Linked DNA regions of Homo sapiens: region 2 is linked to region 1. The links come from fine-mapping of genetic effects on gene expression. A gene starts in region 1. The other region holds a variant in brackets. All regions are shown on one strand. Distances are between the middles of the regions. Region 1 holds the start of MYOM3 (myomesin 3). Region 2 overlaps MYOM3 (myomesin 3).

Region 1 (11,588 bases):
ACGGCAGAGGTCTGGCGTCTCAGCTGGGCTTCCCTGCCGTGACAGAGGCCATCGGGGCTCAGGCAGGGATGGGGGATGCCTGGGGCATCCTGGCCAGTTCCATTCCCTGTGCCCAGCAGTGCCAGGATGCTTTAAACTTTTGGAGGACATGCATGATTTTGCATCTTCCCTTGCCTCCAAAACAGCCTGGAAGGGCCCTGCTTGCAGTCAGTCCTTAATAGTTGACTGTTTTCATTGTTTTCAAGGCTCTTTCACAAACCTTTGTTCATCTTGTTTTCACGACAGCCAAGTGGCCAGGCCTTAGTGTCCCTATTTTATAGGGCAGGGACTGAGGCTTAGCAACTTGCTTCAGGTCAGCCAGGACCACCACCCAAGCCTCCTAGCCCAGGGCCCTGCCCCAAGCCGAACGCTGCCTCTCCACGCCGGCACACTCAGAGGCCTCCTCAGTCTCTGGCCTTGTGGGAAACTGGGGCCTGGTTTACTTGCTCCTTCTGTCCCATTCTTAGCCCCCTCCCCCACCACGTGAAGCCCAGAAGTCTGTTGGTGAAGTAGGCCCCTACCCTCTTCCTTGGGAACAGTCCCCCGCTATGACACGTGCACCCTTCCAGAGGGTGGCATGTGGGCTTTGAGGGCAGGTAGCCCTGGGCTTAAACTCCTGTCTAGACCCTTATTCTAGATGTGGGATTTTGGGCAGGTTCTTTACACTCGGGGTGAAAGGCCAGCAGGGAGGCCGGGGACTGGACAGGATGGCCCCTCCTCAGCCACGGCTCCCTGGGAAGCTTCTCTGACTCACCAAGACAGCTCGGAGGAGGCCGTCAGAGCCAGGGCTGCTGCCAGGGCGTAGTCCGCGGCGCTGAACTCATGCTCTTCTTCGCTGCTCCCAGAAGGAGGGGAGTAAATGGCTCTTGCAGGATTGGCTGGGGGCTCCCTGAGATTAGGGCTGCATCTGCCCACCTCAGCCTCAGGGCACCAGCAGGCAGGGCTGTGCCTCCCTCCTCATACTGGGGTCTCAGAAAGCAAGGCTGCATCCCCCCGACCCTGAATGTGCTTCCCTCCTCAAACAGGGTTTCCAGAGGACAGGGCTGTGCCTCTTCCATCACATGGGGGTCTCCAGAGAGCCAATTGTGTCTCCCCCCTCAGACAGGGGGTTCAGAAAGCAGGGATGTCCCTCCCCCCATCAGGTTGGAGCCTCCAGAGGGCTAGGCTGGGCCTCCCTCCTCAGACTGGGGGCCCTGGGAACAGGGCAGTGGCTGGGCGGGGACCCTGTGGCTCCCACCTGCTGCGGAAGGTCCGCCTCCGCACAGAGGAGCCCATGCGCAGGCTGTGCTGCCGCTCCTCCTTCTGCTCCTCCTCCTGCCGGTGCTCCAGCCTGTGAACCTCCATGGCCTGGGGGGGCCGGGGGTCCCCCGCACCTCCCAAGCTGTGCGGCAGAGTCATGGTTACGAGAGCAACAACCTGTGAAGGCCAAGGTCCACGGTCATTCCACCAGGTGCCCGCCTATCCCCTCCCATGCAGTCTTCCCAACATCTCTAGGAGGCTGGCAGGATGGGGGGTGGGGGTGTCCTCTCTGCAGTCGGCAGACAGGGAAACTGAGGTCTGAGAGGGAGAGGGACCTGCCCAAGGTGACAGAGGCAGGCCTTGGGCTCTGAGCCAGGCTTCTCCTCCACCCCATGTGCTCCCCAGCTGAGTGAGCAGAGCCCCCACGTTAGGGAGCAGGGCCCTGGCTTCTAGCTGCTTCCAGCTGCAGCCCAGCCCTTGTCTCACTGTATGATCTGTGGCAAGGTTTTCGCTTCTATGGGCCTCAGCTCCCCAGACAATGAGTAATTGAAACTGTGATGTCCACGGCTGTGTCTATGACTCAGGACGGGCAGGCGTCCCCATTCTTCCTGCACCGGCCATGTTCAGTCCTACCTCTGGGCCTTTGCCCACGCTGGTTTCCTCTCCCGGCACACCCTTCCCCTCCTCCTGGCCCGCTTGGCTCTAGTCATGCTTCAAACCCCAACTGAGGGCATGCTAATTAGCAGAGAGACTCTGAGTCCAGCCCACAGGGTGTGATCCCAGCTCCTTATCCCAGCTTTCAAGTGTGTAACCTTGGGAAAGACTCATGACTTTGTTTCCTCATCTGTAAAATGGGTCTACTAACCTCCCAGGGTAGTTGTGAAGGTTAGATGAGTGCTTGGGGCTTAGTAAGTACAACATAAGTATTAGGCATTAGCATTATTTTTCTAAGAAGCCTTGCAGAAAGACTACAGGCCACCTAGAATTTTCCCTCTTCTCATTTCTTTTGTACTTATTTTCTAGCACTCCACAATTTAGCATTGATTCAGACAATGCTTTCTCTATGTAATTATTTTGTATCTGTGCATCTTGACTGTTCAACAAGACTGTAAGTGAATTAAAAGTAACAATAGTGAGAACTTACTATGTTCCATGCCCATGTTAGTTTTCAAATGCATTATCCCCAGTCCCTGCAATAACCCAAATGAGGACAGCACCATTATTATCCCATTTTACTGATGAACAGGGGCAGTACTTGCTCAAGGTCACCCAGCATGATGGTGGGGCCATGACTGGCAGCCAATCCCTAGCCCAACCCCTAGCCCTTCTGATCTCTATGTCATATGTCCATTCAAGGCCAGGCCGTGGCAGAGGCTGGGGACACGGTGGGCCACAGGGCCTTTCTCCTTATAAGGGGATTGCAATGTACACATCTCCTTTGCATTCCCAAGGCTCAAGTCTAGGCCCGTGATGGCGCCCAGTGGGGCCGGATCAGATTGACCCAGGGGAGGCTCAGGAAGCGGATCCATGGATATGGAGAGGCAAACGAGGGGTGTGGGAGGCCCGTGTGCCCGCTGGCTGTGGGTTTTTGCACTGAGTTTTCTCATATCCGGGCTTCAGTCACTGCTGGGTCTCTGAGGGCCCCCCTGATGCTAAAGCTAAAATCCCTGGAATGGCTTTCACACCTCCTCCAGGTGGGAATCCTGGTCTGCAGGCTTCTGGCATGGGAGGGTTCCTGCCCAGGCGTGGGGATGGAAACAGAAGAGGGATGACCGCCTGCCTTGGCCTGCTCCTGTCAGCTTCTGTGGGGTCAGCTCTGTCTGGCCCCTGCCTCTCTAGAGGGTCCTGCTGGAGGTGGCAGCGTGTGTGTGTGTGGGCGTGCATGTGTGTGTATGTGTGTGTGTGCGTGCATGTGTAGGCTGTCTTCTGCCTGGATGTGAACACAGCACCTAGGTGACCATTTCTCTAAGTCCATGGCATGGAAGGTGAGCCCACTGGCTTTATTGGAGAGCCGTTGGCCTGGAAGGGGCATGTGGTGGAGGTGTCTGGGGCTCGGGCTGTGGAGGGTCAGTCTTAGTGGGCTTTTACCCCTTCTACTTCCTAGAAGTTTGCTCCTTTTGGGTGTCTGCAGTTGTGGGCATCAGGAAAAAGAGAATGGATGGCTGCAGGGTTAGCTGGGACCAAGGGCTGCCCCCTAAAGCTCCCTGGGCTCCTGCTAATCATCTCAAATGACATAATGGGACAGTCACCCTCTTTGGCTTCGTATCACTCCCTCCCGATGGAAGAAGTTCTCTTTGCACCCAAAGAAGTGGCTAGCCCTGCTCATTCTGCTCTTTCTTCCTCATGGCCCAGGAGGAGAGCTGCTGGGTACCACCCTAGGTGGAGCAAGGACCCCCCACTCTGCCCCAGCTTTCCTGGGACACGATGGCCCTGGCTCCAGTGGCTGAGAGTTAACATTCCCTGGCACCAGCCACTGGCTCCCTTCCCCTGGATGCTCTGTTCCCGATTAGCACAGCAGGCAGGGGCCTGGCGCTCGTCCCTGACCTCGGGGCCTCCAGCAACCAGACCCCTGGCTTTAGCGGATGAGCTACCAATTCTTTTTAAAGCACTGACTGATGCGTGGTATTAAGCAGGGACAAGTTTGCGGCCTCACTGCCCTTTCCCAAAGGACCAGGGTGCCTCTTCCCGGAACACTGTGTGTGCCTGCGTGGAGGGGAAACTGCCCCCGCTTCCCTCTCTTGGGGTGCAAAAATCTGGGCCAGAGGTCCCACTGCGTGGCCTTCCCTATTCCCCTCTGCTTTCCTCCCAAGCCTCCATCTGCCGAGGAGGCCTCTCCCCTTCTTCAGGAGGGAAAGAGGAATGCACAGCAGTTGAGCCAAGACCCCTCCAGGAGCTGCGATGGGGGCGGATGGTGGCTGGGAGCAGAGACACATCCTGCGGGCGGCGGGTGGCACAGGCTGGGACGTGTTCTTAGCCAGTGGCTCCACCAGCTTCCGCGAGGCCGAATCCTGCCCTTGCCAGTCATGAGCTGAGGCAACTCCTTTCCCGTCTGGGCCTCGGTTTCCTGTCAGGCACTGGATGAAATCCCTTCCAGCTCTAAGATTTGGGATCCGAGGGCTCGCTCTCTTTCCCTGCCTGTGGGGTTGGCCAAGCCGGGCTCAGCCAGCTCCGCTCTAAGTTCGTGGAACTTGCCAGCTTAGCCTGGCTCCCGCTTATCGCTGCTCCATCACAGGAAAGACTCCAGTTCCCAGGGCAGCCCCCACTCTTTTTTTTTTTTTTGCAACTTTCACATCACAGACAGCTCAGCTCTCAGAAGACCCAGGGCCACACAGAACAGTGGGATGGGGCAGGGGTTTCTGGAATCCCCTCCCATTTTCACTTGGGTGCTGCCTCAGCACAAATTTCCCAGGCTCCTTTCACAACACACAACACACATACACACAAACACACACACGTGCACACACACACACACATGCACCCACAGATATCACTCCCCAGTGGCTGACTCTTAGGAGGCATCCCTCCCCCACCCTGATTTCTGGGGGTGACTCACAGAAGCAGTGTGCCCACTTAGGAGTCTCTGGGGAGAAGATTCCTGAGGCCGAGAGGGTCCTTGTTCTCTTCTTGCCCTCGGCTCAGCGGGCACCGGGAGAAGAATGCGATCCCGGAGACTGCACCGTCTTAAATATAGCAGCACTGAGACAGTACAATGACAATGGATGAGAACTATGGCATCGGGGACAGGGGGCCAAGGGGAGGGGCCATTCCGTGTCTCCAGCCTGCTGGGCAGCAGCGACAGGTGGAGCTGTCCGCCGCGTCCCCCCACACTGCTCCTCCTCTCAGCTGGGTCCTTTCTGCCCAACCCAAGCCCCTGTTAAAATGGAAAGGAGGGAACGGCTCAGGCATGGTCGTATGGAGGGCAGATCCCGTGCGGCGTTCTCAGCTGTCGGGAGTTCTGATCTGAATTCTGCCCCGGCTGACTGGGTGCCCTGGGGAAGGCGCTCAGCTTCCCTGAACTGACTGCCTTCTGAAAAACGGAGACAGTGAGACTGGGCACCTGGACTTCATGAAGACGGTGGAAGGAATATGACCTAAAAGTGAGTGTTTCGTGCTCAGAAGTTGTCACTGGCTAAAACAGCAATGTGTGGCTCCTGGTCCCTCCACCACTCCGGTAGTTACTACACGGCCCCCGCCCTGACCACAGTCATGTGTGTGTGGTGTGGTGCAGGCAGGAGGAGCTGGGGAGCCACCTACTGCTTCACTGTGCAAACTGCTCAGGCTGCCAGAGTGTCCCCTGAAGGGCCTTCTTATAGGGTAAACGCACCTGACAGGGATAACTGAAGCACGCTCCAAGAATGACCCTGTGTGGAAGACCTGAATATGTGTTCCGAGCTAAGGAATCTGGGGAGTAGCCAACCCGTTTCTTACCTACGATGAATATCTGAGCCCCCGTCCCGTCCCTTCTGGTGGAACGCTGGCCATACAGGGGATTGAGGCCCTGAGTTTTGGGTTAAATGAAGATTGCCAGGTGGAGGTCATTAGGGGATGGTGTAAAGTGAAAATGCTCTATAAACTGCATGCTGTTTGCAAGGGGCTGAGGTTTTCCTGCCCAGTCGGCCGCCACTGGTATGTTGTCCAGCCCGCCGCCCCTGGACCATTTCTGTATGTAAGGCGGTTCTCCTGTCCAGTTCATCACCAGTGGACTCTCTCTCCTGTAGGCAAGCCCCTAACAAACCCCCACGTTCCTTCCTTTCCTTCCTTCCCTTCCTTCTCTCCCTTTCTTTTTCTTTCTTTCTTTCTTTCTTTCTTTCTTTCTTTCTTTCTTTCTTTCTTTCTTTCTTTCTTTCTTTCTTTCTTTCTTCTTTCTCTTTCCTTCCTTCCTTCCTTCTTTCCTTCTTTCCCTCCCCCCCTCCTTCCTTCCTTCCTTCCTTCTCTCTCTCTTTCTTTCTTTCTTTCTTTCCTTCTTTCCTTCTTTCTTTCCTTCTTGAGTCAGAGTCTCACTTTGTTGTCCAGGCTGGAGTGCAGTGGCATGATCTCAGCTCACTGCAACCTCCGCCTCCTGAAACCCCCATGTTCCGTTTGCTGGCTATGGATCTTTTCTTTGGCCTCTCAAACCTGGTGCCTTCCCTACTGAGGTTAATAGGTGTTCGGCACCACACCTCTTCCCACCCTTTGCCCTCTCCTGCCATTCCCTCAGTCTCAATTCTTTCCCCCTCACATTCATTGGCACCTACCCTATGCCAGACCCTAACCTACAGGGGAAGTCAGGCACTTACGACAGGAGGTGATCAGGAAGGTGCACCTGGGTCGAGTCTCAGAGGATGAGCCGGTGAGGGGAAGGCTGTACCGGCCCCTAGCCAGAGAGCACAGCTTCCCTCCCTCACCCCTTCCTGCGACCTCAGGTGGCCACCCACACTACACCTGTCACTCTTGCTGGTGCCTCAGGGACTCCTCACTCGAGAGAAGGAGAGAGAGAGCACAAGTGAACTTTGCAGGCAAAATCTGAATCCCCTGCCCTATTTGAAAACCCCTTTCTAAGCTCTTCTGTGGCTCTCTCTTACAGCATCTTTTGGGAGAGAACATTTCTCTCCCATCTTCTATTGACCCAATCGAACAAGGGCTTTCCAAGACTCATCTTCATACATTTGCTGTGAGGGATGAGTGTGAGTGAATCCGTACGAACAGCAAAGAGGGCTTTGAGCTTCCAACTGAGCAGGAGACAGTCATTTAAACAGGTCCTCTAGCCCCGTCCTCCCAAGGCAATCTGGGGAGATGAATGAAGGTGCACTGGAGAGACAGGGTGCATCCTGGAGTCAAACCGGCTTAGGCTTTCAATTCAGTCCCACCACTTATTAGCTGGATGACCTTGGGGAAGGCACTCAGCCAGTGTGGTTTGATTATCTGTACAGTTGAAGACAACAATTTCCACTTAGCTGTCTCATTGAAAATGTTCAATCAGGCTGGGCATGGTGGCTCACACCTGTAATCCCATCACTTTGGGAGGCCGAGGCGGGTGGATCACCTGAGGTCAGGAGTTCGTGACCAGCCTGGCCAACATGGTGAAACCCCGTCTCTACTAAAAATACAAAAATTAGCTGGGTGTGGTGGGGGCGCGCCTGTAATCCCAGCTGCTTGGGAGGCTGAGGCAGGAGAATTGCTTGAACCCAGGAGGTGGACGTTGCAGTGAGCTGAGATGGCGCCATTGCACTCCAGCCTGGGTGACAGGAGTGAAACTTTGTCTCAAAAAGAAAAGAAAAAAAAAAAGAATAGAAAAGAAAAGAAAAGAAAATGTTCAACCAAGAACCGTGAAACCTCCAGCACGGCGTCTGGCCCCGGACAGACGTTTGCTAAATGAAAGCTCTAGGAATGCTGATGGCTTTCTCTTACCCCATGCTTCTGGGGGTGGGATTCCCATGTATCCCTTTGTTGACCTCACCCCAGTGAAGCACTCAGTCATCACTGGAACCTCTGTAAACATGGCCAAGCCTAAGGTCATGCGGCTGAGCAGAGAGATTAGATGACTTGATGTTATACAAGCCTTGGTTTAAATCCCAACCTCTGGTGCCTCAGTCACTAACAGGGGGACCTTGGCCTCCTTTCTGGGCCTCAGTTTCTTTCTCTGTAGGTGGAGGACACATTCCAAGATAGCAGAGAACTTGCCTGCCTGACCATATCCCTACCCCCGAGAACAGTGCTTGGCATACACCTGGCCCTCAATTCACATTTATTTACAAATGAATCAGTGGGCTGGGCGCAGTGGCTCACGCCTGTAATCCGAGCACTTTGGGAGGCCGAGGCAGGTGGATCATGAGGTCAGGAAATCGAGACCATCCTGGCTAACAAGGTGAAACCCTGTCTCTACTAAAAATACAAAAAATTAGCAGGTCGTGGTGGTGGGCTCCTGTAGTCCCAGCTACTCAGGAGGCTGAGTTAGGAGAATGGGGTGAACCCGGGAGGCAGAGCTTGCAGTGAGCTGAGATGGCGCCACTGCACTCCAGTCTGGGAGACCAGAGAGAGACTCCGTCTCAAAAAAAAAAAAAAAAAAGAAAAATGAATCAGTGAATGGTTACTGTCTTAGTTCGTTTGAGCTGCTACAACAAAATACATTAGACAGGGTCATTTATAAATAACAAAAGTTTATTTCTTACGGTTCTGGAGACCAAGAAGTTCAAGATCAACGTGCTAGCAGATTCAGTGTCTGGTGAGGACCTGCTCTCTGCATCATAGATGGTGCCTCTTGTGGAGTCCTCATGTGGTGGAAGGGGCTAGGGCACTCTCTTCAACCTCTTTTATAAGGGCATTAATCCCATTCCATTTTTATTTTTTTCCCCGAGACAGGATCTTGCTCTGTTGCCCAGACTGGAGTGCAGTGGTGCAGTCATGGCTCACTGCAGCCTCAACCTCTTGGGCTTAAGTGATCCTCCTACCTCAGCCTCCTGAGTAGCTGGGACTATAGGCACGCACCACCACACCAGGCTAATTTTTGCGTTTTTTGTAGAGACAGGGTCTCACTGTGATGCCCGGGCTGGTCTCAAACTCCTGGCCTCAAGGGATCTTCCCACCTTGGCCTCCCAAAGTGCTGGGATTACTGGCTTGAATCACCACCATGCTGGCCTCTTGATCCCATTATTGAGGGCATAGCCTTCATGGCCTTCCAAAGGGCTCACCTCTTGCTACTATTACATGAAGTTTCAACATATGAATTTTGGGGGGACTCCAACATTCAGACTATAGCAATTGCCTATCTTGCAGAATGGCTGGGAGACTCAGATAAGGTTAAATGTGTAAAATACCTACTATAGTACCTGGCTTATCTTTCTTCTTTCTCCCCTTGCCTTCTTTTCTCTTTTATTCCCTTCCCTGGACTTATGACCATTAAGAACAAACTGACTGCTCTGAACCTCCATGCTGTTTCTCCGACAGCAACCAAGCCTGTGGCTTTCTCCCCCTGTGTGGCGACACTGTACCTGCTTCAGTCTCCCGTCCCTCCCTGTCGCTCTCGGAGTCCAGTTAATTGCAACTGCTGTTCTTCTCATACGGACTGGCCAAAGCATATCTTCCTTACTCCCCCTTCCTCCTTAGAGTGGGAAGGAAAAATGGGCTCAAGTAGCCAAAGGAGCTGAGCAGCAGCTCTGGGGTCTCAGAGTTGTCTCATCAGCGTCAGCACCAGCAGGGGAGGTGGGGGCTGCCTCCATCTCTCTGGCAATACCTGCCTCAGCTTATTGTTTCTGTCCCATGGTCTGGAATGCAGGTGGGGACAGCGACAGGGGACAAGCATTGGTGACATCAGGCCATAGTCTCCCTGTCCAGGTTGACACTCAGACTTGGGAGGGACAGAGGCTCTGGCTGTCTGGAAATCTGGAGGAGCTCCAGTCCTGCTGGTCCAATTCTCTGGGTGGAAACTCAGGCAAGCCCTGTATGTTCCTAGAGTCGGGAGCTTGGGAGGTCAGAGGTTTGCAGGCATCACAGCCATGCAGTACCCCCACCCTCAACTCTGTTGCAACAGCGGGTGTAATGGGGGTCCCTCTAGGGCGCTGATTTGAGGCTATGGAGAGAGAAAGTGATGGTGTAACGGCACTGTTCCCTCAACTTGCTTCAGAGGAATCACCAAAGAAGTTTATGAAAAATGCAGATACCCCCCAGCACTTTGGGAGGCCAAGGTGGAGGATCACTTGGGTCCAGGAGTTTGAGGCTAGCCTGGTCAACAGGGTGAAACCTGTTGACAAAAATACAAAAAATACAAAAGTTAGCAGGCATGGCGGTGGGTGTTTGTAGTCCCAGCTACTTGGGAGGCTGAGGTGAGAGGATCACCTGAGCCAGGGAGGTGGAGGCTGCAGTGAGCTGTGATCATGCTACTGCAATCCAGCCTGGGTAACAAAGTGAGGCTCTGTCTCAAAAACAAACAACCAGATTCCTAGAAACTGTGAGTTTAGCAGGTCTGGGGTGGGCTTGGGGAAGCTGTATTTTTAGTAAGCTTCCCAGAGTATTTTCATGAACTAGGGCAAGTAATCTCTCTGAGACACATTTTCCTCCTTTGCGAAATATCAATAATACAACCTATCATGGAGAGAAGGGTACCAGGAGGATGAATGATCAAGTACATAACGGCCAAGCAACACGGTTGACTTCTTCTCTTTCATATGACTTTGACTACTGCTACTATTATATTACTAGTCATTTATTCCTGGGCTTGACTGTGCCATACCTTGTAGGCAAGTGAAAACTTGGAGAATCACCTCTCTTGCTGGGCAGGGTGGGGCTGTGGAGATTCCTGGAAATGGGATCGGACCCAGGACTCTCAGGAACGATGAGGTCCCCAGCCAGCTCCAGGGTATGCGGACGCTCTGCCTTCTGGCTGGTTCCAGCTCTATCTGCAGGCCTGGGCTGCCTGGGAGGCATGGGACCTCAGGGGTCATGCAGTCTGGTCCCCGCCCCTCAGTGCAGACAGGTCCAACCTGAGGAGGGGTGAGTCACAGACTCGAAGCCATCCATCCCTCTCTTCAGACACTCAGACTCCACCCTCCCAGAATCATTTCTGAAATGTTTGTCACCCGGAGGAGGGCAAAGAGCTTCGTGTTACTGTGAGTTGGAAGAGATATTTATGGCTTTTAATAAAACTTCTTTTTTGAGATGGAGTCTCGCTCTGTTGCCCAGGCTGGAGTGCAATGGCTGGATTTTGGCTCACTGCAAACCCCGCCACCCGGGTTCAAGTGATCCTCCTGCCTCAGCCTCCCAAGCAGCTGGGATTACAGGCGCCTGCCACCATGCCCAGCTAATTTTGTACTTTTAGTAGAGAGGGGGTCTCATGTTGGCCAGACTGGTCTGGAACTCCCAACCTCAGGTGATCCACCCACCTTGGCCTCCAAAAGTGCTGGGATTACAGGCGTGAGCCACTGCGCCTGGTCTTAATAAAAAACTTCTGTAGCTCCTGGGTCTCACTTGGTGAGAATAGTCCACCTGTTAGGTTGTTTTTCACCAATAAACAAGGTGAAGACAGTTAACCTTTGGCCAAGTGTGACCCAAGCAACAGGAAGTAGACTTGTTTGCAGTGGGTGGGGAGAGGGGAGCCGTCATCCGGCTGACTTGGCTGCCGTGGAGGGGTGAATGGGCTGGGGGGGGCTGTCCAGGTAGACCCATCCCTCTGCACGGAGGTGTTGGGTCTAAACCAGTGACACCGAGGAGATGTTAAACATTAATTACCATCAGATAAGAACACCACCACCTGTCACTGTGTCCCAGGAAAGGGGAGGGGTGGGGAAGAGAAGAGGAGATGTACCTGGGAAGAGAAGGACACTGTCCACTCTGGGAAG
Region 2 (11,588 bases), 24 kb before region 1:
AAGCAAAGGCAGCCAACCCCAAACCCAGCGCCACATGGTACATCTTCAAGACTTTGGGCTTTGTCCTTGAAAAAGAACATGTGGCTGTTAATACCTGCACTAATGCTGGGATGCAAAAACACCGAGTCCTTTCAGAGCCCTCAAAGAGAATTGTCATCCAGAGACACGCAAGGATGCTCTAGCTTAGAGAAAAATGTCCTTCTCATCCTGTCCCTTCTTGATAAGACCCAATTGTGGACCTCTTTCTCTCTCTTCACCTATCAACGTTCTCCTAGAGCAAATCTTGTTTTGCAGGGAGCTCTTCTCAGCCAGGCCTTCATCTTTCTTCCATGTTGGATGCTTCCTGACCTTGAAAATTGGACTCCAAGTTCTTTAGCTTTTGGACTGGGACTTACACCAGTGGTTTGCCAGGAGCTCTCAGGCCTTCGGCCACAAACTGAAGGCTGCACTGTTGGCTTCCCTACTTTTGAGGTTTTGGGACTCGGACTGGCTTCCTCGCTCCTCAGCTTGCAAACAGCCGGTTGTACGACTTTACTTTGTGATTGTGTGAGTCAATAGTCCTTAATAAACTCCCTTTCCTATATACATCTATCCTATTAGTCTGTCCCTCTAGAGAACCCTGACTGATACAGAAAGGGTGAGGGGTGGTATGGAGCCTGAACTCAGGCCTCCCTGGCTCCAAAGCTCTCCACTGCTCTGCCCTCCCCACCTCTCTCTGGGTTTAAGCTCCTGGAGGGATGAGACCAAGGCATGGTCATCTCTATCCATGGAGTCCTGCAAATAGCACATTCTCAACAAAGTTTGTTGAAAAAGACCATCTGGGTTCAAGTCCCAGTCCTGCCATTTACTAAGCTACAAGGGGCTTTGGCAAGTTATGTAACCTCTCCATGCCTCAGTTTCTTCATCTGTAAAATAATAAAAATAATAGTCCTACACATTTAGGCTTGCAGGTAGAACTAGATGACCTCACATATGAAAAATGCCAGAACAGTACCTGGCGCAGGGTAAATATTGTGAAATGCTGGGCTTCATTATCATTATGGCCCCCTTTCAAGGATGCCTGGTGCAGGAAGAGGGGTGATCTGGTTTGGCTCTGTACTCCCACTCAAATCTCATGTTGAATTGTAATCCCCAGTGTTGGGGGAGGGACCTCGTGGGAGGAGATTGGATCATGGGGGCGGATGTCCGCTTTGCTGTTGTCAAGATAGGGAGCAAGTTCTCATGAGATCTGCTTGTTTGGAAGTGTGTAGCACTTCCTGCTTTGCTCTTTCTCCCTCTCCTGCTCCCGCCATGTAAGACATGCTTCCTTCCCCCTCGCCTTCCGCCATAATCATAAGTTTCCTGAGGCCTCCCCAGAAAAAGAAGCCTGTATAGGTCGCAGAACTGTGAGCTGATTAAACCTCTTTTCTTTATAAAAGAAATTACCCAGTCTCAGGTATGTCTTTATAGCAGTGTGAGAACAGACTGATACGGGTGGGCAGACGTACCTGGTGCCTTGGATGGGTTTGTTGTTAACTGTTTGCCACTCAGATGTCCCCACCTTCCGGGAGTAGATGTAATAACCCAGGAGCTCTGGGTCTTTCACAGGATCCCATGTCAGGGAGACAGAGGTCTGTGTGTCTCTGAAAGCTTGAACTTGAGCTGGAGGAGGGAGGGTAGCTAAAAAATAGAAACATGGGCTGAATGAGAAGGCTGAGTTACATGGGTCTGACAGGCTGGGGAAGGGGAGGAGCATGGGGAGAGGCCAGAAGGAGCTCCCACAGCAATCAAGGTGCATGAATTCCTGACCTGCTGGGGGCTTTGGGACCTCTTCCCTAGGCCCAGAAGTGTATCCTAAAAGTCCTCTCTCCCCTTACCTCTGAGCATCTCTGCTTCCTCACTAAAGCACAAAAGCATACTCACTCATTCATCCTTACACACACACACTCTCTCTCACTCAAAAGTCACCAAATCTGATAGGTTTCCTCAGTCCTTATCTTTAATCTCAGTTTTCTTTCCTTGAAATTTCTCTACTGATTTTCATGGCTCCCTGAAACTAAGCTTTTTGAGATAGGGGCTGCTGTAACTTGTTAAATGGATGGATGGATGGTTGGTTGAATGAATGGATGGATGGATGGTTGGTTGGATGAATGGATGGATGGATGGATGGATGGATGGATGGACAGATGGATGCATGGACAGGTGGATACATGGATGAATAAATGGATGGATGGATGGATGGATAGATGGATGGATGAATGGATGGATGGATGGACAGGTGGATTCATGGATGAATAAATGGATGCATGGATGGATGGATAGATGGATGGATGGATGGATGGATGGATGGATGGATGGATGGACAGGTGGATACATGGATGAATAAATGGATAGATGGATGGATAGATGGATGAATAGATGGATAGATGGACTGATGGGCAGATGCATGGATGGACTGATGGATGGCAGGTGCATGATCTTCCTAGTTCTCTTTTTATTTCTAAACTCCTTACACATCCTTTGGTTGTTCTCTATTTTCTTTTGGCCCCCAAACGTTGGACTCATCCAAGCTTCTGTTCCTTGACCTGCTCCACTTTTTCTCCTCTCTTCTTATTCCTAAGGGTCCTGCCTATCCCAGGTCTTCATCCCTCACCTGTTTGAAGGCTTCACCTCTAGCCCTGCCCTCCCTTCCTTTCTGAATTATACCAGAGCCTTGCCTGGTACAATTTAAGTGTGGTTTATGGTCCAGAGACTGCCCACATCTGATGACTAATTGCTCACTGGCCAGGCCCCAAATCAAATCCAAATGTTAACCAGAAGTAAAGAAAAGCACCACTTGCTCACCAACTTGTTCATATGTGCCGTGTGTGTATGTGTGTGTGTGTGTGCGCGTGTGTATTTTTTCCCCTCTAAATTATTGAAGCAGAACAAATCTAGAACTTTGAAATCTTCCCCAAATGGGACCTTCAGCAAACCAGGCTTTTCTTGCATAGGTGGTACTGTAGCAAGGTTCCTTAAAGGGCTGATTGTGATGGCAGCTACGGGGAATCTGATGAGAGGGTAAAGAACCTCAGAATCCAGAGGCCTCAGAGGTGGGAGCCCTGGGAAGCTGGGGTCAGGATGCAGTTGCAGTTGGGAGACTCAGGAAGGAGCCAGAGGTGGGAGCAGTGATGGGGCCCTTTAGAACAATGGGTTTGCCAGTTGAGGACAGCAAGGTGTGCAGCTTGGAAATGACTCTCCCAGGTCCCCCGTTATGCTGCAGGTGAGTGGTGTCCTGCCTGGTAAGCCAGGGCTCAGGTGGGACAGCTCAACCCCCACCAGACAAGGAGCAGGGGGCTGCTTGGGAGTGAGCTGCAGGATCTAGGGGCAGGCCAGAGACCTGTGGAACGGAGGGACCAGTTGCTTGCACAGCTGCTGTGCAGGGCCCAGCTGTGCACTCTAACCCATGCATTGCTGATCTGGAAAAAGGCAGAAGGCTCTCTCCCTCCATGAGCCTTCTGCCCAGAGAAATGTGATTTCTGATGTCTTAAAACTCCCCAGGCCTGAGATCAAATTGCTTTTCAGCTTCATGATGGGTAGAAGGGAGCGGGGACAGGGAAGTGGGCAGGGCTTTGTCCCTGCAGCTTCAGGTCCTGAGCCTGGCCTGGCCTGCCTCCTCCCCGACCCCCGGCATCAGGAGGGTACCTGGCGGGCCCCGCAAGGCGATGGGTTCGCTGGGCTCCGAGGGATCGCTCAGGCCATACTGGTTCATTGCTCGCACTCTGAAGACATACGACTTCTTTTTCTCCAGGTCCAGAACGGCGAATCTCGGGGATCTCACAGGGCTTTCCGAGCTGATGGCCTCCCAGGTGCCACTACCTATGACTGACTGAAGAAACAGAGGGACTCACATTGGCTAACTGGTCGCCCAGACCGGCTCTGTGCTGGTCACCTCCCATGATCTCTGTCCCCAGCCCGTGTGCTCTCATGATCCTCTATACTCAGCCCAGGCTGCCCCTGAGCATGGGGCTCTGCCCCATCTGCCTCCTCACCTCTCCACCCGGATTCCTACCGAGACCTCACGTCCAGCCTGTCCACAACGCGGCTCCAGAGCTTCCCACACCTGCATTGCACTGGTGGCCCCCATCCTTCCAGTCCCTCGGGTGAAACCCCTGGAGCCACCCTTGGCCCTTCCTCTCTTTGTCTCATGCCCTAAATGTGCTCCATGAATGAACCCAGTTGGCTCACCCTTCAAAATTTACCCAGAAACCAGCCATGCCTTATTGTCCTCATGCTCCCCACCATAACCTTGATGCAGGCTGCCAGCACCCCGCACCTGAACGATCTCAATGGCCTCTTGACTGGTCTCCCCTCCATTTCTACCTATAACCCCCTTCCGTCTTGTCTCAAATGGCCATCAGGGGGATCCTTTTATAGCACGTGTCAGACCAGGTCCCTGTCTGCCCAGAACCCTCCCACGTCCCGCATCTCCCTCAGAGCAAAAGCTTCCCCATCGCCTGACCCCTCGGCCTGTCTGGCCACCGTTCCCTCTGCCCTTAGTCTCTGTGCCTCTCTGCTGTTTCCTGAGGGTCCAAGTCCCACCTCTGGGCCTTTGCACTTGCTGGTCCCTCAGCCTGGAATGTTCTTCTCCGAGAAATCTCTTGGCTTCCTGTAGGCCTTTAATAAAAATCCACCTTCCTGGGCAGTGGGGAGGCCATCCCAGCCACTCCATCTAAAAATGTCAGCAGCTCCTCTCCCCACACTTCAAGTTCCCCTCCCTGCTCAATGTCTTTCTCCTTAGCGCCTACCACTCACTACTGTGCTTAATATTCTACTGATTTACTCCATTTATCATTGGCACCCCCTCCCCTGACTGCCGTGTCCCTAGGGCCAAGAACAGGACTGGCACATAGCAGGTGCTCCATCTATGTTTCTGGGACAAATGAATGAACAAATGAATGAATTCTCACAATAACCCTGCAGGAAGGTGTTAATTTCTCTGCCGATGAGGAAAGTCAGGTTCAGAGAGTTTCGGTAACTTGGCCAAAAGTCCTGCATCTAATAACTGGTGGATATAGTATTAAACTTCACTCAGGTGTGGTTGGCTGCGAACCTGTTTACTCTCCACAGCATCAGGGACCCAGAAGGCAGCCAGAAACCCCGAGTCTCTGGGCAGATGGAGGGTGGAGAGCCCAGGGTGAGACAGATGAGTGAGGTACCCAGAGACCCTTTCTGCTGAGTCTGGGCAAGAGAGTTAAGACCTAGAAGCACAAGGGGACCCACTGATTCCACGCTCTGTGGTTTTCCCCCCACAAGCCCATCTGGCTGTCAGTGGCCTAGACCAGGTAGGACAAGAAATTGCCATAAGAAACCATGAACACTGCTGAGCTCCTACTGTGTGCCAGGCTCCATTCTAAGTCTTTATGTGCGCTAATTAATTTGATCCTCACATTAACCCTACAAGCTGTGTATGATTATTATCATTTTATGGAAGAAGAAACAGAGGCACAGAGAAACTAAGTAACTTGCCCAAGGTCACGCAGCTGGTAAGTAGCAGAGATAGAATTTGAACCCAAGCAGTCTGACGCCAACATCTTCACCATGATACACTACCACCTTGTGAAACAAATCCTCAATTATCTACAGCTTTCCTATGTCGGAGAAAAAGGATTACCCATGAGTGTGAAAAGAGAGGCCTGTTTGGATAATCAGAGCCAGAGATTCCTCCCTGGAAATTTTAAATTCATTTATTCCCTAAACATTTTCTGTCCACCTAGTTTGTGCCAGGCATTGTGCTGGGCACAGAAAGTAATGAGAAGATAAACTTAGTCTCTGACTTCAGGGAGATAGTCAAGAACACCTCCTTGGGAAGCACTGACAGATCCCAGGGGTTGCTGGCTTTGGCTGTGGGCTGTGTTTTATTTCATCTTCACAGGGCAGGTTCTCTATTCTATGCTGGAGGAAACTGAGGCTCAGAGAGTTTAGGACACTCACTCAGGATCACACAGCACAAGGAAGGATTTGAATAGATTTTGACACCATGCTGTCTTCTACTCTGCCATACTGCCCCCCCTCCACTGTGAAGTTCACTCCACAAGACCTGCCTCATCCCCGCCGGGGTCTCCCCTGCCCCCACTCCCCAGTGAGAGCCACCTCCTAGTGCTAATCACACCATAGGCTCTGCAAGTGCTGCTGGTGCCTGTCCCTGGCTGGAGGGTACCAGCCTTGTTTCCCTCCCAACATAGTCCCACCAAGAAGTGCTTGGCCCCAATGTGTGGTCTGATGCCATCTGGCTTGGGGGCAGGGAGGTACCCAGGAAGTGGTGGATCGTATTGTCATTGTTGTCTGTGTCTTGTATTTTGTGTATTTCCACGAACAGCCTCAGGAACGACCAGCAGTGACTGGCTTCCAGGGCTAGAGGTAGCTGCAAAAGGCTATTCAATCCATCCCCTTGCCTCTGTGTAGGGCCATGCCTGGGCCCTTCTGGCCAGGGGATTCTCTTTCATTCTCTGACGGCCTCCCCAGGGGACACTGCCCAGGGTCCCACAGCACATCTGTTTCTCAGGCTGGCCTGGGGCTGGGGCCTCGGGGTTCCCTACCTTCTCCAGGGAGTACGTCAGTGGTGCTCTGTCCCGGGGGCTGGGCTCCTCCCAGGCCAGAACCACATAGGCCTCTCGGATCTCGCTGGCATGGACATTGGTTGGCGGTGAGGGGATGGTCACAGTATCTGAAATCAGAGTCACCCGGGACCGAGATGGTTGGACCCTCAGAGACCCCCTAATCTCAGTGCCTCATTCCATGGAAGAGGGAACTACACCCCTACCCATCCCCCAGAGAGGGGCAGTAGTTGGCTCCAGGTCACTCAGCAATGCTGGGCAGAGCCGGGGCTAGAACCCAGGTCTCCCACTGCTCTGGCCAGGACTTTTCCCAATGTGTTCCCTCCTCCAGGAGGGCCACAGCCAGATGGGCCACAGTGACCCCAGCACTCTGACTGCCTCCAACTAGGCCCCACCTGCCCTCATCCCCCACACCCTGCACTGGGACAGCTTCTGCCTCTTTGCCAGCTCATGTCCCAGAGTTTTGAGAACTATACAGGAGGCCCAGTGTGTGGGAGGATCCCGCGTACCTTCAAAAGCGTCTGTGCTGATGGTGATCTTGTTTCCCAGATCAAAGGGGATCTCTAGGATGAGAAGGGAGCA[T/C]GGGAGGGTGGGGGGTGGCACAGGAGGAGTTAGGCCAGGAGCTACCCCACACCAGGGTCTGCGTCCTGCCCCGTCCCAGTCCTGGCCTTGCAGCCCTCGCTGTGCAACCTCAGACAGGTGCCCTCCCTCTGGCCTCAGCTTTCTCAGGAGTCCCAAGTGGAGCCCTGCTGCTCTCAGGCCCTGGCACATGCTCTTCCTCTTGGGACAAGTGGAGACAGAGAGGAGGAGGGAGGTGCCTGGCGCTGGGCACCCTGCCACGGTGGAGCTTCTAGCACACCCAAGTCAGCGTGGCTCCCGAGGGCTGAGAGGAGGCCGTGTCCCCGCACTCGAGCTTAAGGACATCTGACAGGTGCTGGGGTAGGGTGCTCCCTCAGACTGGTCTCTCCCATGGACAGGTTTGGTTTCTCCCATTAGACTAGCTGTATCTTCCTTCTCAGGCTAGGGGTTCCTAAGGACCGGATTGTGTCTCCTCCATCAGACTGGAAGTTCTCGAGGGCTGGCCTTTGTCTCCTTCATCAGACTAGTGTTTACTGAGGGCTGGGCTGTGCTTCCTCCACCAGACTCGGGGCTCCTGAGGGCTGGATTGTCTCCTGTGTGAGACAGTCCTGAGGGTTCCCTGACTGATGTTCTAGAAAGTCGCTTAGGACCTCTGTACCCACCTGTCTTCCTCCGGGCTGCATCATGGTCACCCATGACAACCAACTCTGAGGCCTTGGAGGGGACGCTGCTGCCTACCCTGCTGATGGCTCTCACCCGGAACCGATAGCTCTGACCTTCGACGAGGCCTTGGATTGGGCACCGACAAGTCCCTCCGGGGGCCTCATGGCAGGCGATCCATTCCCCAGACTCGCCCTGGCACCTGTTGGAGACAGGCCCCCCCTTTCAGCCCCTGCCCACAATGCACACCTTCCCAATGTGAGCCTCTACAAGGGCCTTTCTCTGACTGGGGGAGCCTGCCCAGCTCATCTCTGCCAATTAAAGTTCTTCTCTCCAATGGAAGAGCCTGGCTCCAACCTCGGGCCCCCGGGAGACCTTTTCACCATCCCTGACACTGACCAGCAGCAGTGCCTTTCATGGGGCATCATCGTGAGCCTGTGACTGTGCTGTGCCCTCCACACCCAGCCCTCGTTTTATCTCCCTGGCAGTCCTAGGGGGCACGTGTGGTCACCTTCACTGCACACATGGAGGATCTGTGGCTCAGAGAGTGACAAGACCTGCCCAAGGTCACACAGTTAGGATTTACCTGAGCTTGTCCCCTCCCTAAGTTGGCATGCATTCCAGGTTGACCCTCCAAGCCTGGGCTCTCTGTACCCTCTTGGTACCATTGTTCCAGGCAGTACGACAGTGCACGTTACCCTTATTGTTACCAGCTGGTTGAGGTAGTCGTCACATGTGGGTCCAAGTCTTGTCTCCACCACTAATGACAAATGTGTCTTTGAGCAAAGTCATCTCCCCACATACTTTGGTTTCCCCATCTATAGAAGAGGGCATTAGATAGTCCCCCTCCCCTTTAGAGACGGGTCATTGGAAGGATGGAAAGAGATGAGGCATGCCCTTAGCACGGTCATGAGCCTGTCCGTGGCAGCATTAGCTATTTTCTCAAGCTGGGCCTTCAGAGCCGGCCACACTGGAAAAAGGCCGGAGGTTCTGGCCTCTCTACCTGTTTGCCTCCTCCCTTGGGGTCAGTGCTATTCCATCTCTCTCTGTCATTAGGAAGGAAACTAGCCCACGAATTCACTGTGCTCAGGGTTCAAGCACTCCCCGTTTTGCCCCTCTGGGTCAGCTCTAGAGGGTCCACAGGGCAGTGGCCGACTCCAGCATAGAATTCCAGTTATCAGCATGACAAAGACTTGGAGGTGTGGATGCCCCTCCATTGCCCCTAAATGACACAGCACAGCCTGTCTCCTGTCCTTTTCTGAGGAGCGGGGGTGTGAGGGTTCTCTGAGGTCAGACATGGGGCCTCCTCTTTGCTGTGGCTCCCACCACCAGACAGAATTCTACCCCTAGGGCCTCTGCCACTCACGAGGTCGACTCACCGCTCAATGGTGTAGGCAGTGATGGGGTTGCCCCGGGTGTCACTGGGCGGGGCCCAAGTCAGGATGAGGCAGTCTCTGTTCACATCCAGGCATCGGACGTTCAGTGGGGAGCCTGGGGCCCCGGGGTTCTCGGCCTCGGCATCTGAAACCCGGGGGTGAGAGGGAGGCCCTTCTAGTCAGTGGCCATTTGGTGACAGGCCCTTCCCACTCCCGCCCAGCATCCTCTTCTCATCCATCCTCCAGGGGCTCAGTTTTGATCTTGAGGACTGGGGCCTGAATATTAGTCCCACTACCCCCATAGCAGTATCTGAGGGAAGGATGACAGTACCATTTCTTGGGGGCCCATTTTACACCAAGTACCTGAACAAGTGGAATAATTAATTCCAGCCCCAGAGCAGCCTTCCCCTCTTTGGATGGGGAAACTGAGTCTCCTGGAGGTGAGTGAGTGACCTGCCCAAAGTCACCCAGCTGGTGAAGTGACAAAGCCAGGATGTGAACCCAGGCCCTAAGCAGTGGCCAGAATCACTCCAGCCCCACACTCAGCTCCCAGCCTCCCTGGCTCCAGCCAGGCTAACTCTCGGGCCATGTCCCTTTGGAGGGTCATAGGATGCCACGGGGAGTCTTGGAGACCCCAACCCAAAGCCCTGATTTTATGGTAGAGAAATTGAGGCCCCAAGAGAGCAGGGTCCTTGCCTAAGGTTCCACAGCAAACAAGGGGCAGAGCCCTGGTCTCTGGGCTCCTGCTGCTACCCTGCGCCCACCCATGCCCTCACCTCTCACAAGCACGTAGGTGCTCTGTTCCCGGGGTCCGAAGGGCGAGGGCACCCGGACCATGTAGAGCCCCTCGTCCTCCTTGTAGGTGCAGGACACCTTCAGGGATGCCTGGCGGTCTGTGTAGAGGATCTTCCGACGTCTCGAGGACCTCAGTAGGCTCCCTGTGGAGGGGAAGTGGGGGGCCATTGAGTTTGTGGGGGGTCCTGGTCTCACCTGGGAACCACAGAAACTGGGGGGTCTGGAGACCCTGGCTGGGCAGAGAGAGAGGCTGGTGAGGCTCAGCTCAGGCCTTGGGTGGGGGTGGTGGCCTCCAGGGCTTTGCCAAGGCAGGCAGTGGAGAACTCTCCTTTGCAGAGGGCTTGGGGAGTAGGGAAGGGCCAGTGCGGGGCTGGGGCTCAATGAGGGAGTGAGGGTTTAGGGACATAGCCAGTGACAAGGTGAGGAGTTGTAGGTTCTCTGAGGGAGTAGGAGCAAGAGAGATGGGTCCCTGTATGGGGTCAGGGGACTCAAAGAAGGAGGGCCCGTTTGGGGGAGGTGGGAGCTCAGTAAAGGGCCTGGGTCTCACTGAGAGAGCTGGGGCCTCGGTGAGGCGGGTGGAGGACGTGTCGTGGGGTCAGGGGTCAGGTAAGGGAGTGAGGGCTCTCGGGATGGGAGCTTAGGAGGTGGATGGGGACTCAGAAGTGGAGTCCAGGGCTCAGGGGCGGGCCCTGCCTTGAGGCCACACTGTGGGGCCAGCTCTTCTCTTTGCCCCATGTGAAGGATCCGCCCTCCATTCAGCACCTCCATTCTGGAAGATCTACACGTTTGGGAAGACGTCTCAGCCTTGTTATTGCAGCTGTCAGGGATCCTGATGGCTCCCATACTCCCTGCTCCCAGCAGGTGCAGCCTCCCTGGGCTCAGAGCTGGGGGTGCCAGAGGGGCACTGTACTCTGGGTCCTTAGGCTATAGGCCTAGTCATGGATTGGGTAGGAGGTCCAGCCGTCGTCCTCCTCCCTCACTGGGCCACGTCTTCCTGCCTTGGCTCTGACCAGGCTTCTCAAGGCCTCGCCTGAGACATCCCCAGAGGCCTCCCAGCCCACGGGTCAGCAACTGTATCTGCACCACCACCCTGACTCTGCAAAGTCCGATGCAACTGTTGCAGCCTGCCCTGAGCACTTGTGGTGCCCTCCTGCCTCCCGATCTTGGGGCTCTGTTCCCATTGCTTTGAGTGCCCTCACTCACTTTTTTTTTTTTTTTTTTTTGAGATGGAGTCTTGCTCTTGTCCCCCAGGCTGGAGTGCAATGGTGCCATCTCGGCTCACTGCGACCTCTGCCTCCTGGGTTCAAGCGATTCTCCTGCCTCAGCCTCCCGAGTAGCTAGATTACAGGCACCCACCAACATGCCTGGCTAATTTTTGGTATTTTTAGTAAAGATGGGGTTTTGCCATGTTGGCTAGACCTGAACTCTTGACCTCAGGTGATCCACCCACCTCAGCCTCCCAGAGTGCTAGGATTACAGGTGTGAGCCACCACGCCTGGCCTCCCTCCCTCACTCTTAGGGAGGTAATGATGCATGCAAATGGCTGAGCAGGTGCCTGGTCAGTGCCAGCGGCTACAATTGTGCTGATGGCTTCCTCCCTCCT

Evidence for each region.
Region 2: its variant is fine-mapped to the expression of MYOM3 in unexposed skin (GTEx, PIP above 0.99). The same link has a PIP of 0.9 or more in sun-exposed skin.

Annotation. Positions count from the first base shown.
Region 1 is chr1:24,107,200-24,118,787 of GRCh38, forward strand. MYOM3 (myomesin 3) reads right to left here and starts at 4,936. Exons shown (of 37, transcript NM_152372.4): 1 at 4,832-4,936; 2 at 1,277-1,455; 3 at 794-874; 4 at 1-33. The coding sequence starts at 1,437. RefSeq lists enhancers at 1-449, 5,138-5,646.
Region 2 is chr1:24,082,981-24,094,568 of GRCh38, forward strand. It overlaps MYOM3 (myomesin 3), which reads right to left. Exons shown (of 37, transcript NM_152372.4): 10 at 9,967-10,128; 11 at 9,194-9,335; 12 at 7,817-8,016; 13 at 7,085-7,138; 14 at 6,558-6,685; 15 at 3,664-3,847; 16 at 1,488-1,659. MYOM3-AS1 (MYOM3 antisense RNA 1) reads left to right here. Exons shown (of 3, transcript XR_001737930.2): 3 at 295-375. Among named protein-coding and RNA genes, the nearest start is that of MYOM3-AS1, 22 kb to the left of the region's middle. RefSeq lists an enhancer at 9,999-10,662. The variant T/C (reference allele first, on the strand shown) is at 7,158.